Regions from separate parts of the Homo sapiens genome. Here region 2 is linked to region 1. The links come from fine-mapping of genetic effects on gene expression. A gene starts in region 1. The other region holds a variant in brackets. All regions are shown on one strand. Distances are between the middles of the regions. Region 1 holds the start of KRT73 (keratin 73). Region 2 overlaps KRT2 (keratin 2).

Region 1 (8,264 bases):
AGAAACTGTTCATCACATATCTGTCCTTCCAGAAGACAGAGCCAGAGGTGGGGCAGGGGGAGCCTTACCCCCTCGTACAGACACTTGAAGAACTTGATTTCTCCATCCAGGGCATCCACCTTGGCCTGCAGCTCCACTTTGCTCGTGTAAGCTGCGTCCACGTCCTATGGAGAATCCAGATACCCCTGACCTCACCTTTCTTCAAGCCCAGACAGGCCTCTCCAGCGAACTGACACCTGCAGGCCCTGCCCTAGCTAGCTGCCCAGGACTTCAGATCCAAGGGGCAGGAACCGGCCTTCCAGCCACAACTTCACTGTCAGACTCACTGCGAAACCTGGGGCAAGTTTCTCATGCCTCTGGAACTCCTTCTGCCTCTATTTCTCAGAGAAGGGTGTGAGACTCTATACCCCACTCAGCCAGTCATTCAGCCAACAGAGGGAGGCAAGGACAGCCACGGCGATTTGCCAGAAACTAGCAGAGTTGGAAGGCAAACCTGCAGCCCCTCCCAAAGCCTGTCCTGTTCCCCAGCCAGAGGGGACATGAGTTGGGACTGACTATCCACATCTAGGTTCCTGTCCACAGACAAAGTACTGTGTGCTAAACCAACACCAGGTGTCCCAAAATGTCCCAAGCAGCAAGCCCTTCATCTCCTCCTTCAGCACTTTGGCTCCAGGCCCTTCTGCGGGGGGCTCAGACCTCAGCTGCTCCTCTCTCTTAGCCCAGCACCCACTGCTGGGGGACTGAAGGGAACCCATGCACCCTCCTCACCTTCTTAAGCACCACAAATTCATTCTCAGCAGTTGTGCGCTTGTTTATTTCTTCTTCATACCTGCAGGGAAAGCATCACAGGAAGCAGAGTGTGTGTCTGTGTGTGTGTGTATACGTTCTCATAGTGAAATGAGAAAAGAGATACCCATATTATATGCCTTTTAAGAGGTATTATTCTATACCTTTGCAAGTCCATCCCAACACACCAGGACTATTTGGCCAGAGTTGGAGGCCGGGTATGAAGTAACCTCCTCCTGAGCCTGGGTGGTTTGAGGTCTGATTTCCTCTGATGCCTGGGGAGTGAGTAGGTTCTTCCTCTTCCCACTCAGTATCTGAATCACAGAAGCATGCCAGCTACCCCTTTCAGCCATGATTCTTGTGTCAATCCTGCTGCCTGACAACCTACCAACAACTCCCCTCCATCCCTAGGCAGGGGTCCCAAGGAAGCCAGAACTATCTCCCAGGGGAGAAAGAAGGCACATGGCCCGTGTCCAGGACCGAAAGGCAATGAGAGAGGAAGCCCAACAGGAACTCCACCTCCTTCCCTGTGGCAGAGAGCAGCGGGTGGGTGGGGGGTGGTTCTTTGGAACTCAGGGGCACAGTGGTGAGCTTAGGAGCCAAGAGGCTGCGGCACACACAATACAGGCTCCCTTGAACAGGGAGCAGGAAGGAGCATGCCAAGGAGGGGATCACCTGCCAGGACAGCCCTGACGCTGCCCAAGAGGCTGGTTGTCCACTGTCTAGTCTGCCTCGTTGCCCATAGAAGGCTCTCATCTTGCTGGGACAGATGAACCCAATACCTCCAAGGCCAGAGGCAAACATCCCAGTGCCTGCTGGGAAAGCCTCACCCTGGGAGGCAGACCAGCCTGGAGTGGCGTCCTGCTCACCTCTTCTTGTAGTCCTCCACCACTTCGCGCACGCTCCTCAGCTCCGAGTCCAGCCTCACCCTGTCCCCAGACAGCGTCTCCAGCTGCTTCCGCAGGTTGCTGATGTAGCCCTCAAGGATGGGCTCCAGGTTATTCTTGCAGTTGTTCAGGTCCAGCTGCTGTAGCAGCTCCCACTTGGTCTCCAGCACCTGGTTCTGCTGCTCCAGGAACCGCACCTGGAACCCATGCCACACATACTTAAGCAATGTGGAGAGGGGATGTGAGAATTCCCTTCCTGGACAGGAACTGTGTTTTCTTATGCTACATTAGCTTTAAAAATGAGCCTCAGCCCTTAAAAACTGCCACCCATGCCACTCACACCCCCACTCCTTACCTAGGGTCCTTTATCTGACTGAAGTTCTCACTCTGAGGCAGCCCTTAAGGTTGGGAGGGGCACCAATGTCTTCATTTCCCTCTCAAACTATCAAGATCTAGATCTCCTGTCTCCTCTGCACTTATCCAAACCTGCCTGGACCGATGTCCATGTTCAGTCCAGGCCACCTCTCCAAGGCAGCCCCTTAGACACAAGCTGGCCTGTGCTAGCCTTCACACTGTCAGGCCTTCTGCTCGGGGTCTGGTGGCCCGTGCTCTGCCTAGTCTCTCCCTCCTTGTGCGTGGGCTCTCCCAGCCCAGCCAGAGGCAGATGTTCAGCTTATCTGGGGTCTCCGGCCCTCCTAAGTTGCTTTCATGTCTGAATCTCTACTATCTCAATCACAGCATTGTCCCAGCAGCAGAACAAGCATTCTCAAGTTGCAACCTACAAATATATCATTCCCTTGCTTAAAACCCTCAGGTGGTTCCACATCACCCTCAGGGTCAAGTCCATATTCCTTATCACACTCTTCATAATGTGCCCAGCCCTCCTGGCTTCCTTCTTTACTCATACAGTGATGTCGTAAACCGAAGGTCTCCCATTCCCCAGACAAGTTCTACCATGCTGCACGTGCTGTCTCCCTAGATTGCCTTTTCCCCACCTCCATCTGAAAACTCCTACTCATGCCTCACCACCCTACCTCACTGTCGCTCCGGGTGAGCTTCCCCTGCTCCTCTAAGCTTAGGAAGTCTCTGCTTCCCAATACCTTCCTACCACTTTGTTCCTCAGTGATTCTCAAACCTGAGTGTACATCAGCATCACCTGGAGAGCTTGTTAAAATGCAGGGTGCTGGGCCCTGCTGCAGAGTCTCTGATTCAGTTGCTCTGGGGTGGAGCCTGAGAGTGTGCATTCTAACAAGCGTCCAGGTGACGTTGCTGCTGCTGGTTCCAGGGCCACCTTTGAGAACCACTGCTCTAGGGCACCGTGACCTCCAGCTGCCTTGCCTCATAGGCTGTGTGTGTTACGGACTGAGTCTGAGCTTTCAGGGGACACAGGAGGAACAGCTGGGTCGCATGGCAGTCTAGATGCCCCAGGCTGTCAAGGGCATCTCCTTCGCCTAGCTTCTAAGTCTCACAGGCTGTCACTCTGCTACTTCTCAACTCAGAGACCGCTCTCATTGCTTCCTGGACACCTTCCTGGGCTAGGCTGCTGGCTCCTCTCACCCCTCCAACCCTGGTCCCTTGCCTCTGATGTCCAGGCTTTGTCCAGTTCCTCCCTGGGCTATGTCTGCATCCTGGGGAGGTGTCCTGCCTTCGTCTGCTTCAGACAGGGAGCACCCCAAGGACAATGAAGGCGGGGGAAGGAAGGGGCTCTACGGCATGAGCAAGCCTTATGGGCCCAGCACCTGGGGAGCTTTCAAGTTGTTTACCTGGTGTCTGATTTTGCTGGGAGAAAATGATTTCTTGCTCTCAGGCAAATTGAACCACAAATTAGGGCAGTGGCTCCCTCCTGAGTCCTTAAAAGGGGAGCCCAAGATCAGCTTTCTCCAGAAAGACCCACCTTGTCAATGAAGGAGGCGAACTTGTTGTTCAGCACCTTGATCTGCTCCCGCTCCTGGGCACGCACTTTCTGGATTTCAGGGTCCAGCTCCACGTTCAGGGGTGCCAGGAGGCTCTTGTTGATGGTGACCTGATGGATACCCCCGGGCGGGCACAACGACGGACACACGGACCCCAAGGCCACACTGCCAAACATGCTGCCAGCAAAGCCACTGGCCCGGCCCCGGCCAAATCCATAGCCTCCTGCCCACCCACTGCCACTGGCCACATTGAAAGAGATGCTCCGGGCACCCCCCAGGCTGTAAAGGCTCCGACTGCTGAAGCCTCCACTGAGCCCTTTGCCCCCTGCTCGGTAGGAGGATGAGCTGCCCCCTGAGAGCACAGCGGAGCAGCCGCTGAAGCCCCCCTTGGCAGCAGCTCCCGACTTGTAGGTGAATTGGCGGCTCATGGTGGGGAGGCCAGAAAGTGGGGATAAGATGCTGACCCTTAGCTGAGATGCAGTTCACCAGCCTGTGATCCTGGGCTCCCACTTTATAGGACTCAAGAGGGAGCCATGGGCCTAATTTGTGGGTTCAGTTTGCCTGGAAGCAAGAAATCATTTTCTCCCAGCAAAATCAGACACCAGGTAAATGACTTGAAAACTCCCAAAGTGCTAGTCTTGCAAGTCTTGCTCATGTAATTTGAGTTTTATCTAATGAACATGTGTAATTAGCATGGGCACATTATCCATAGAAAGATCTTAGGTGGGAGGTTTGTCGCAGTCTCAATTGCTGTTCCCCAGGGAGTGGTGGGGCCTGGGATTGTAGGGGTACAGAGGGGAGACCTTTAATTGACAGTGTCATCTGTTAGAAATCTCACAACCATGCCAGCATCAGATGGGCTGCTTCAGGGACCCTGGCTGAGCTGCTTTTATGTGGTTAAGAAGAGGCTGCTGCTGCCTGGCTTCCCAGAGTTCCTGGAGACAGGTTTGATGGCTGGCCAGGGCCATAGGAGAGGAGCACACTGGGAATCCAGGACCAGCCTCTGGCTGCCAGCCCCCTGCTGTGCCCTCCCAGGCAGCTCTCCTGCTCCTCTGTGCCAGCCGGGCTGCCCTGCTCACCTTCCTTTGCACACACTGACTTCTTTTTCCCTTTACCATCCCACTACCCTGACTCTTGACCTTGAAATTATGGTCATTGCACCATTCACGATGGCTGACACTGGTGCAGCACTTTACAGTGTAACAGAGCTCCTCACACAAGAAGCTCATTTAATCCACTTAGTCTGCATGGAGGGGAATGGTGATGATCCACATTACACAAATGGGGAAACCAAGGTTCAGATAATTGAGGATGTCATTCCTTTAGCAAACATTTAGTGAGTCCTTTCTTTGTGTGAATCCCAGAGAATGAAAATGCCCCCAAAAAGCACAGGCCCCAGCCTTGAGGACTCCCTTGGCTGGTCTTCTGACTCCACATTCAGAGCTATGCCCGCCTTATTCATTCGTCCATCTATCCGTCCAACCAGCCAGCCAGCCATCTACTTGTTCATTCATTTATCCATTCGTTTAACAGACTTCTCTTGAGGGCTGACTCTCTCCCAGGTACTGTGCTAGGCTCTTGGGTCCCGAATTATGAAGACCAAACCTAGCTCACAATTTTGGAGATGGGGAGGTAGGGGAAGACATTTGAATTTCATGGATCCTTGACATTGCCAAAGTATGTGACCCAAGAGTTTCCCAAATCCCAAATCCCAAATATATCCATAGTATAGAATTTCCTCCATAAAAACACAAGTATTTCACTAGCTGGAGTACTTGAATGAACAGTTGGCCCATCCTTCTTTTCTATTTCTGTATAGAGGTTATGATATGCCTCTAAAATTGTTGTACTAAGCAATTGCCAAATTCAACCTCCCCTCTGTTTTATACAATATGGTTGTTTTCTAGTTAAGAATAATCATTTTCTTTGATGTCTTCAATTTCACTAAAGGCAATGCCACTTGGAAGTCCTTTAATCTTTTTTAGCTAACATGAAGTTCTATTCCTTTTTTTCTTTTTTTTTTTTTTTTTTTTTGAGATGGCGTTTCACTCTTCTTGCCCAGGCTGGAGTGCAATAGCATGATCTCGGCTCATCGCAACCTCCACTTCCTGGGTTCAAGGGATTCTCCTGCCTCAGCCTCCTGAGTAGCTGGGATGCAACACCACGCCCGGCTAATTTTGTATTTCTAGTAGAAATGGGGTTTCTCCATATTGGTCAGGCTGGTCTCGGTCTCCCAACCTCAGGTGATCTGCCCGCCTCAGTCTCTCGAAGTGCTGGGATTACAGGCGTGAGCCACCGCACCTGACCCAAAGTTTCTATTCCTTTGTAAGTTTCTTTGTAAGGCACAAAGAAGACCAACAAAACTGCATTGTGATGAGAATGCTTAGTATTCCAGCCAGAATCACTCCCTAATTGGCTCATTTCAGCACACCAGCACTGGGGTGGAGGTGATTCAGGCCTGCATCTCAGCAAAACTACAAATTGCTGCATGTCACAGGCCCTGAGATAACCCCCAATGGCATTTATGCTGTGAATGCCAACTCTGCAGTATGGCGTGGATGTGCTTACGAGCAAACAGCCCCTCTCCTTATGGTTTTCACTTCCCCTCCCCTCCCTGGCCTTCTCATCTTGTGAACCTGCCACAGAGGCACTTCCGGAAACCTTCTCTGATCACTTTCCTAATCCAATCACACCTCTCTTCCCAGCCTCCCACATGTTGTTTGTTGTCCAAACAACAGCATCTATTATGTCAATTGTCTCTTCTAATTTGATGTCTCTACCTGTGTTCAGGAGGTATGTCAATCTTTCCTAACGGCCAGAAATTTTCCTGAGGACAAGATCCAGGTCCTATCCTCCCTTTGGTCCTCTCTACTCACTTCCCAGAACTCCAGTGGCAAAGGACTCTCAGGCAGTCATGGACTAGGCTAAAAAACTCTTAGGTGCCCTTTGAAATCATTCTCCCTAAGAACAGTATCCCTAGCACCTGTCATTGAAATGCCTCTAAGTGGGTTTTCACACAGTGAGCTCCTTATATTTCACATCCCTTATATTGCCCTCACCAGGGGAAACTCAATGCCAGATGAACCCAATTACCAAGTCAGCCCCACTTCCCACAGTGGGGCTGTCCTGCCATTAGCCTCTGCCCAGACACTAGGGCAAGAGTTTCTGATGGTTTCAGAAAAGAGAGAAAGAAAGGGGGGGGGGGGGAGAGAGAAAGAGAGAGAGAGACAGGCAGGAAATCAACTTTCTGTCACCCCCAGGGGCAATCAAATAAATATTGTGAAATCAGTATTCCCTATGTGGATATTCCACAACTAGAAAGATGAAGTAGACATACTTTTCCCTTCTTCACAAACATAAGAAGACTCTGAAGCGTAGAGAAGAAGGCACACCAACAGGGACCTCAGGACCCAGTGAAAGACATGATGATTATTTCTCTAGGTTTTCTATTTGTCTCCTATATTCCAGACTTGGGGCAGAAGAAGGCAGGAATCTGGAAAGGCTCAGATTTTTAAAGATTAAACAAAAGCTTGATCTCTGTAGCCACATCATCAGGAAAGGGGCAGCCTAGCAAGATGGAAAACTTACAGAGAATAATCACTCTATTCCATCTCAACACACAGAAAATACTATGGTTTCACCTACACCCACATCAGCAAAAGCTGAGTGTGAGGCCTAGACCTTCACACTCACCAGGCTATAATGAGGTGCCCCAACTGCCCCCTCCCCCAGCAGTTAGATGGAATCAGGGAAGTCCAAGAAAGAAGCCGGGATTCCATCCCCACCAGGAGGTAACAAGTGCCTGACCCACTTGGTACCAGTGGAGACCATGTGGGGAGCCCAGACTTCCACCCTCACCTGGCAATAACAAGGTAGCATCCACACCCTTTCCCCTGCAAGGACAATGTCAGAAGAAGGCAGCCAAAACAGAAGATTTAAACAATATCCAGAATCTCATAATAGTACCAAAATGTCCAAATGTTTATTTAAAAAATCACTCATTGTGCCAAGAACAAGGAAGTCCTCAAATTGAATGAAAAAAAAAGACGATTGATAGATGCCAATACTTAGATGACAAAGTTGTTAAAATTATCTGACAAAGATTTCAAAGCAGCCACAATAAACATGCTTAAATGAACAACTAAGAACATGCTAAATAGATGACAAATTAGACAGTTTCAACAAAGAAATTTAAAAACCAGAAGAACTAAATGAAAGTTTTATTTATTTTTTATTTTTTTATAAACATCCCCAACTTGCTTGTTTTATTGGAGAAGAGGACATGGAATAAACATCTGGGATGTGAGTCTGGGAAGAACCCCCTCTCCTCCCCATATATGCCTACTGCCCCAAACTAAAAATAACCAACTCTGGGAGAGCAGCTGAGACAGCAACTGGGGGCAGAAGAAGGAGACACGGAACTGGAGGGCAGTGGTGAAGAGACCACACGTGTGCTGGGAGGGCCCAGAGGCAGTGACAGCATGAACAGTGCAAGTACAAGTCTCTGTGCCTTCCCTGGGGTTGTGTATAAATATATAGAAATGAGGCCTTCTATCCCATTTCTCTCCCTTCCGCTCCTTGCTGCCTGCCACAGTCCCAGCTCCTCTTTCCACACGAGGGCGAAGGGAAGTGGAGGATGAACAAGTCATCACTGAATTGCGATCAGACCCACATCCAT
Region 2 (8,112 bases), 24 kb after region 1:
ATTATGTACATACAGAATCCTAAGGAATCTACAAAATAACTAGTAGAAGTGACAAATGAATTTAGCATGCTCACAAGAAACAAGGCCAGTTTTTAAAACTGTGCTTCCATATATGAGCAAGGAGCAAATAACAAATTAAAATTTTTAAATACCACTTGTAATAGCATGAAAACATGAAATACTTAGAGATAAATTTAACAAAACATATGTAAGACCTGTACGCTGAAAACTGTGACACACTGATGAGAAAAATTAAAGAAGACCTAAAGCAATGGAGAGAGGTACTATGTTCATAGACTGAAAGACTCAAGATACTTAAAATGCCAATTCTCCCCAAACTGACCTATTGATTCAACATCATTTCAATTAAAACCCAGCAGTATTTCCTGATAGAAACTTACAAGCTGATACTAAACTTTATACTCAAATTCAAAAATTCAATCCCATATAATTTTTTAAAAGAATAAGAAAATCAGAGGTATTATACTAGCTTATTTCAAGACTGATTCAAGCCACCATATCAATACTGTATGTTAGAAGTGTTTCACAGATACATTAATCAACAGAATAAAGAATCCAAAAACAGACCCACACATATGTCTCCATTGATATTTGACAAAGTTGCCAAGGTAGTTCAACAAGTAAACAATAGTCTTTTGAACAACTGGTGCCCAAACAACTGGATATTTACTTGGGGGAATAAAATGAACTTGGACCCTTACCTTAGACCATACCCCAATGGCCACTTAAAATGGGGTATAGACAATGTAAACACTAGAATTATAAAACTTCTAGGATAAAAGTTTGTATTGTAGGAGAAAATGTTTGTGACCATTAGGTAAGCAAAGATTTCTTAAGACACCAAAAGTCCAAACTATAAAGAAAATTTGATAAATTAGAATTAATCAATATTAGAAAATTCTGCTGCTTGTAAGATGCCATTAAGAAAATGACAAGAAAATCCACACACTGAGTGAAAATATTGACAATACATATACCTGACAAATGACTGTTATCCAGAGTATATAAAGAACTCCTGCAACTATGTATGTCAAACTGCCCAATAAAAACTTTCACAAGATTTGGACAGACCTTTCCTAAAACATGTACAAACGCCCAATAAGAACCAAAAAAAGACACTGCACATCACAAGTCATCAGGAAAATGCCATTAAAACTACAAAGAGATAACATGCACACCCTGTAGAATGAAAAAGACTGGCAATGCCCAGTGTTGGAGAGGAGGTACATCAACCCTAAGAAATCCTAGAATAGGCAAAACCAGTCAGTGGTATCGACAAGGAGATCAAAAGTTGGCTGGGGGCATAGGGTAACTCATTGGAGTAGTGGAAATCTTCTATATAAGTATTGTGATAGAGGTTATAAGGATGTATACATTTGTTTAAAAATATTGAGGTATATGCTTAAAATGTAATACAATGCATTTTCTTATTTATAAGTGAATCCTCATTAAAGTTGACTTTAAAATAAACAGCATGCACATTCGAATGTGATCTGTAGTAAATTTTAATTTACTGGAGTTCAACAATGCATTAGATTAACTCAGCGTTCTGCACTTTGAACTACAGCTTCCCCTGCCATCTATCTTTCAATGGAAAGTAATCAGAAATTTCAAGTCTAATTAGTTACAAATATCATTACCATTTACACCCATCTATCTGTATAAATCAAGATTTTCTCAATACAGAAATATGTTGACTAATAAGATACCTTTGGATTTTCTACATATGCAATCACATCATATATTAATAAATCAGTTTTATTTCTTTCTTCCTATCTGTAGGATTTTATTTATTTTTCTTGCATTATTGCACTATTTAGGAATCCCAGTACGATGCTGAATAGGAGTAGTGACAGCAAATACGCTTGCTTGTTCCCAAGAAATGCTTGTGGGAAAAGCATTGACTTTCACCATTAAGTATGTTAGCCATGGGTTTTTACAGATGCCCTTTATCAGGCTAACGAAGTTCCCTTCTACTCCTAGTTTAAGAATCTGTTGTTGTTGTTGTTGTTTTTGTTTGTTTGTTTGTTTTTACCATGGAGGGTGTTGAATTTTGTCAAATGTTTTGTATCTATTGATACAGTCTTATGTTTTTTTCTTCTATGTCAATATGGTGAATACATTAATTCTTTGAATGTTGAGCAAGCTTTTTATTTCTGGGATACATTTTAAACATATACCTCACTATTTTTAAACAATATTTTTAAACACATGGTCATGATGTATTATCCTTTTTATATCTTTCTAGATTGAATTTGCTCATATCTTGCTGATAATTTTTGAATATATATATATATATATATATATATATATATATATATATCCATGAGGGATTTGTTCTTTAGTTTCTTCCATTAATGCTGGCCTTATAAAACAAGATGGAAGGTGTTTCTTCTTCCATCTTCTGAAACAGTTCGTGCAGAATTGTTATTACTCTTTAATTAATCCCACCTATCTGCCAGTGCCTGGATATAAAGTTATCTCATCCATGAGGTCTTCTCCGGTCCCAAAATACTGCCTGTAACTTACAATAATAATAATAATGTAACCTACAGTACTGCATGCTTATGATGGCACAGGTCCTACAGAATAAACATTTATCATTGATTTCAGTGTGTAAACCTCCAGCAATCCTCTGAGGAAGCTGTTGTTGCTACCTGTTTACAAATGAGTAAAGAAAGGCTCAGAGTTGTTAAATAACTTGCCCAGGGTCACACATTCTTTTATCTGATCATCAACTTTTCATTTAGTGCCTACTAAATTCCAAGGTGCCAGCAACTGAGCCCACCCCAGAGCCCGCTCCCTTAGCATGTCCATCAGTGCTTTCCAAACCATGGCCCTTGTGTCACCAGCATCAGAATCACCTAGGAGGTTGTTAAAAATGCAGATTTCTAGACTCCTCTGTAGTGGAAACTCAGGGAGAAGGAGGGGATGCTGGAACAAAGAATATGTATTTTTAGTAAGGGCCGCTTAATGAAATTAATGCACACTACTACATTCTGCCTTATGTTAATAGCTGTTTGCAAATTTCTCATTCTTCCCCTACTAGACCATAAATCCCTGACAGGACGCACTGTCTTATAAGTCTTGATACGCCCACGTAGCCACATGCACAACCTTGCCCACAGTCATTGTCCAACAGGCATTTACTGAACTAGAATGAAAACCACTTTGAGCTTCACATGCTCACACCTATTCACAAAGGGTCTCTCTGGATATCCTGACAGTGTCCCAAATCCCCTGTTGGGCTGAAAGGCTTTAGGAGTAAGCACTGGCTGACCCGGTAGCACAGACAGGGTTCTTTTCATCAGAGCTGGAAGGATCTGTAGAAACAATCTTGGCCACTGAAAGTCCTTAAAGTGAGGCAGAAATTGAGCCAAGAGAGGAGAAAGGACTTGCCCAGTGTCACGCAACAGTTCCC[A/G]CAAAGATGAGGATCAGCATTGAAGTCTCCTCACTCCCAGGGCACTCCTTCCCCACTTCACAGCAAGAAAAGGAGGCAGGAGTGTTCCATTTAGGTGGGCTTCCTGGAGGAGGTGAGCTGTCCTGAAGGAGGTGAAATGTCCAAAGGAATTTCCTTTCAAATGACAGGAAAGAAAGAATTTGGTGAGGAAGAGAAAAAGGGTTTATTTGAATTCATACTAAAACTCACAGGCAGAGAAAGGGAGGGAACCACAAGAGGGAGGATGTCCCAAATATTCTGCAACATCATCAGAACGGAAATGTTTAACCCAGTTCCCTATGGAAATCGAGCTCGTAAAACCCTTCTGCCTGTGCCTGTCTCCTTTTTGAAGCCCAGGACCTGACAAGTCAATTACCAAATTTGGTGGAGGAGCAGCAGAGGGCCCTGGTGGGAGGGTGTGGCCCAGATTCTGGGCTACTCTACACTTCGGAGGGAAAGGAGGGTCCCTCTCCAGAGGTAGCCCCTCTCTCCAATACCTGCTTAGAGCTTGATTTCTGTCACGCCTCAGGCCTGGGTCCCTCTGAGTTAATGTACAAGGCTAATTTTACTACTGGAGTCCAGCAAGAAAGTAGCATATATATGATCTGGAAACCAGAAGGGCTGTGTCTCAGGTGGGGAAGGGATGGGGAACTGGAAACGATAGAAGGAGCTAGAGGTTCAGACCACTGAAAGTCTCAAGAATTAAGGCCGGGTGCAGTGGCTCACGCCTGTGATCCCAGCACTTTGGAAGGCTGAGGCAGGCAGATCACTTGAGGTCAGGAATTCGAGACCAGCCTGGGCAACATGGTAAAACGCCGTCTCTACCAAAAATACAAAAATTAGATAGGCATGGTGGTGCATGTCTGTAATCCCAGCTACTCGGGAGGCTGAGGCATGAGAATCACTTGAGCCGGGAGGCGGAGTTTGCAGTGAGCTGAGATCATGCCACTGCACTCCAGCCTGGGCAACAGAGTGAGACTCCATCTCAAAAAAAAAAAAAATAGAATTAAGGCTCCCCTGGGAATAAATCTGCCACCTTACCTGCCTCACCTCTTTTCCCCTCAGAAAGTTATTAGAATGGATTGCTATTCCCAAAGCCTTTTAAAAAATGAATAAATTGGGAGTGGGAGACCTGGTTTCTGTGTCCACCCTGGGCCTTACCTTTTTCCTCACCTAAGTGAAAAGTTCAAATACACTGATTACCAAAGCTCCTGTCCAGCCTCAAATGTCTGGGACCAAGTCCCTGTTAAAGGTTGTGTTCATGTCTACACTATGTACATACCCGAAAACAGCCAGCTCCTCACACCACTTCTTCCCAACCTGCACCCTCTCCCCACAGACCTCTCCCCACGACTGAGGCCTGGGTGGTTCTCAGGGACCTTCTCTGATCAGCGGATCACTTTAGAATGCTCAGCCTGGAGTCTTGCCACCTTGCCACCTGCAGCCTTCAGAGCTGTTCCTGCAGCACCCTCATACCTGGGTCCTGGCTGGTCTGGAGGCAAGTGAATGCATCTGTTCTCTATTAGAGCCGTCCCTGCAACCTCTGGGAACAGGAAGACGGTCACAGACTCAACTAAGGACTCTCCAAGGTTTTAAAGCTGGGGTGGAGTGGGAGAAAAAAGGACCCTCCAGGAGTGGTTCTGAGTGGCTTTAAGCCACAGCTACTATAACCAAACGCCACATACAGAAAGCTAAGCTGACCTAGCCTGAGCCACCAACTCCCATTTGGGCAACTCTGGCCTGTCTAACACCAACCCCAAGCATGCCCAATCCCACCTGCCCAACCATTCCTGAACTCCCTGGAAGCCCTGCTCAGGTGACATGGCCTTCCTGAGGAAGGGGCTGAAGGCATCTTCACACCCACAGGAGAAGGCCAACCTGATGGCAACATCCATGCGACAGGCCCCGGGGGCTGCGGTGAGAGAGGAGAGAAGGGCTTGTTTGCTGAGTGTGGTGGGACTCCGCTGACAGGAGGGGTGTCCTGTGAAAATAGAAGTGGCTGTTTTGGAGGCCACTTTAGAGTCCTCCAGACTCTTCCCAGGTATCCTCCTCCAGGCTTGCTCAGAGCCCCCGCAGAGACAGAGGCCAGGACCTACATCAGGCTGAGGAAGGTCTGCCTTGGAAGCTCGGAGCTTGGAAACTCACCACGATGGTGCCAGGGGCTCAGCGGTTTTGCCCTGAGGAGAAGTGATCCCGGGCCAAAGCCTTTGTGGAAAAGGGAGAGGGCAGTCTGTGGGAAATGCTCAGGAAGAATGGGTTTTTCTAGAAAAGAGACTCTTCCACAAATCTACCTGTCCACCTCCCGGCAATGCCATGGCCCTCAAGTCTGGTAAATACTTTCTGAGAACCACACACCCATCCCCAGGCTCCCATTCATCCAGAGGCTGGCGCCTGGGCTTCCCTCAGGGAGGCACGCTCCTCACCCAGGAGCCCCTCCTTAATGCCCAAACCTCCCTTGTCCATGGCTGCCCACTTCCACCAAGGTTTGACATCACGCAGACAGCACATGATATGAATTGCAAATGAGGTTTATTATGAAGACCCCCAGACCACAGCACTTCCGAAAGCAGAGTGGACAAGAGGAGCTATATACACAGAAACACATTTCCCCCCAGCACTGCCAGGCTTAGAGATGAAATCCCTGGATGGGCCTGGGTCCTCAACAGAATACACATCTGGAAAATGGGCAATGCAAAGAGGCATGGTGGGGGCGGGAATGGGCATGGCTAGAAGCACAAACCTAGACAGCACAGATTCCGCCCCAGAACACAGAGGCGTCACTGGCTCTAACTAACTGGTTTGGAGAGAAGATCTTTCAAAAACTGTATGTGGACATTCTTTTCCCTCAAAGTGCCATCAGAGATAAATGACAAAAATTTAACTTGCTGCCAGTTAGAGGTACAGAGACAGGCTTCTACATTCTGGAGTGGGAGAGTCTGGGTTGGGAGAGTCGGTGGTGGTGGGGGCTCATCTTTATCTAAAAGAGAAGGTCACGCTGGAACCAAAAGCTTCACCTGAGCTACCCTTTACAGAGCTAGAACCCCCACCTCCAGAGCCATATCCTCCTCCAGAGCTGGAGCCTCCTCTAGAGCCACCTCCAGAGCTGTGTTTTCCACCTCCAGAGCCATATCCTCCTCCAGAGATGGACCCTCCCTTAGAGCCACCACCAGATCCGTATCTTCCTCCAGAACCACCGCCAGAGCCATATCCTCCTCCAGAGATAGAACCTCCTCCTCCACTACCGCCTCTGGAGCCAGACTGTCGGCCTCCAGAGCCATAACTGCTGCTTCCAGAGCTGTATCCTCCTCCGGAACTGGACCCTCTACCTCCAGAACCTCCAAAGGCAGCCTTGGATGCCACATTTGATGAAATGGTGCTGCTTGTCACAGCTGCAGAGAGAGGTGGTGTTACCACAGAGATTATGACTGCCTCTCCCTGCCTCCACCTGACACAACACCCCATGGAACAGGACCACACCCCATTACTTACACACAGTCACATTGCTGCTGAGGTCTCCAGACATCCTGTAAGGGAGAGAGAAAAAACAAGTTGTGGTGGAACACTTAGGTTCTGTATGCATGTTGTTTTACCACTTCCACCCGCAAATGTGCAGTTTAGCCTCTCTAAGCAGCCACCAGGGCTTACACACCCCACTTTCTTCTATGCTGCCAGGTCACACAATGACGACAGACCCCCTTCCATTTATGCACAACCTTGCATGTCAATCCCTCTCAATTTTTGCTCTGATAAAAAATGAACAGTTGCGTGGTTGATCCAAGGTCACTGAAAAGCAAATTCACTTCCTACTTTGCAACCCATTTGTGTATTTAAATCCATCTTGGAGAGTCTGTTATTCAGAATCCATGCCACATCAGAAATTATACAATGAGGCTGCCTGTGAACATTCAGTTCAGAAAGAACTGTGACTCTGTAGAGCCTCCCCATTCCTCTCTTCTTCCCACCCTCTTCAGCTTCAACTGAAAACTTTCCCACTTCCTCTTACAAGCTGGGCATAGGAGGCATTGCCTCTAGACAGGGACAGAGCAACCTCCTGAAGAAAGCCACTCCCTGTTTGTCATGCTGGCTTGCTGATGGCCTGGGGTAGCTTTTCCCCTTCCAATTGCTTCAGCCAGATTAAGTCACCCAAGATGCTGATAATACGGACAAAGGTCTCAGACTACAGAGGAAGCAAAGGGTGCCTCTTTGAAAGTTAGCAAATGGTTCCATTTGTCACTCCAGAAACCTGCAAAGAACTGGGGCTGGCACCTGCTCCGGTCAGCACGTCCCCACCAGTCAGCACATTCCGAGACATCATCTCCCCCATTCTGGGTCACCCGGTGGAGGGCACAGAAGCCACTCACCCTATGGACCTAGAGACCAAAGTTTCAGACTGTCTAGGACTAACCTGTTTTCCCATGATTTTGTTTTCTCTTTCAGAAAAGACCAGGATGTTTAACTTACTGCTTAGTTTAATTTAATGTGCCTTATGCATCATTTCATGTTGATAAATGTGTAACTCTCCAATCATGCTTTATGTCCTGAGTTTCTGCTTGGGGAACACAGAGAATGTCAGTTCTCAGTTGTCAGGAGGGCCTGCCCCATTCTCTGCTTTCCCTGTCTTTGCCTCCAGCCCTGGCTCTGGGAGAGATGAG

What was found. PIP is the estimated chance that this variant, and not a neighbour inherited with it, causes the effect.
Region 2: its variant is fine-mapped to the expression of KRT73 in whole blood (TOPMed, PIP 0.97).

What each region holds. Positions count from the first base shown.
Region 1 is chr12:52,614,511-52,622,774 of GRCh38, forward strand. KRT73 (keratin 73) reads right to left here and starts at 4,049. Exons shown (of 9, transcript NM_175068.3): 1 at 3,568-4,049; 2 at 1,656-1,870; 3 at 769-829; 4 at 69-164. The coding sequence starts at 4,014. It overlaps KRT73-AS1 (KRT73 antisense RNA 1), which reads left to right. Exons shown (of 3, transcript NR_126005.1): 3 at 1-795.
Region 2 is chr12:52,638,586-52,646,697 of GRCh38, forward strand. KRT2 (keratin 2) reads right to left here. Exons shown (of 9, transcript NM_000423.3): 8 at 6,950-6,984; 9 at 5,973-6,849. The coding sequence ends at 6,434. Among named protein-coding and RNA genes, the nearest start is that of KRT2, 9.6 kb to the right of the region's middle. The variant A/G (reference allele first, on the strand shown) is at 3,443.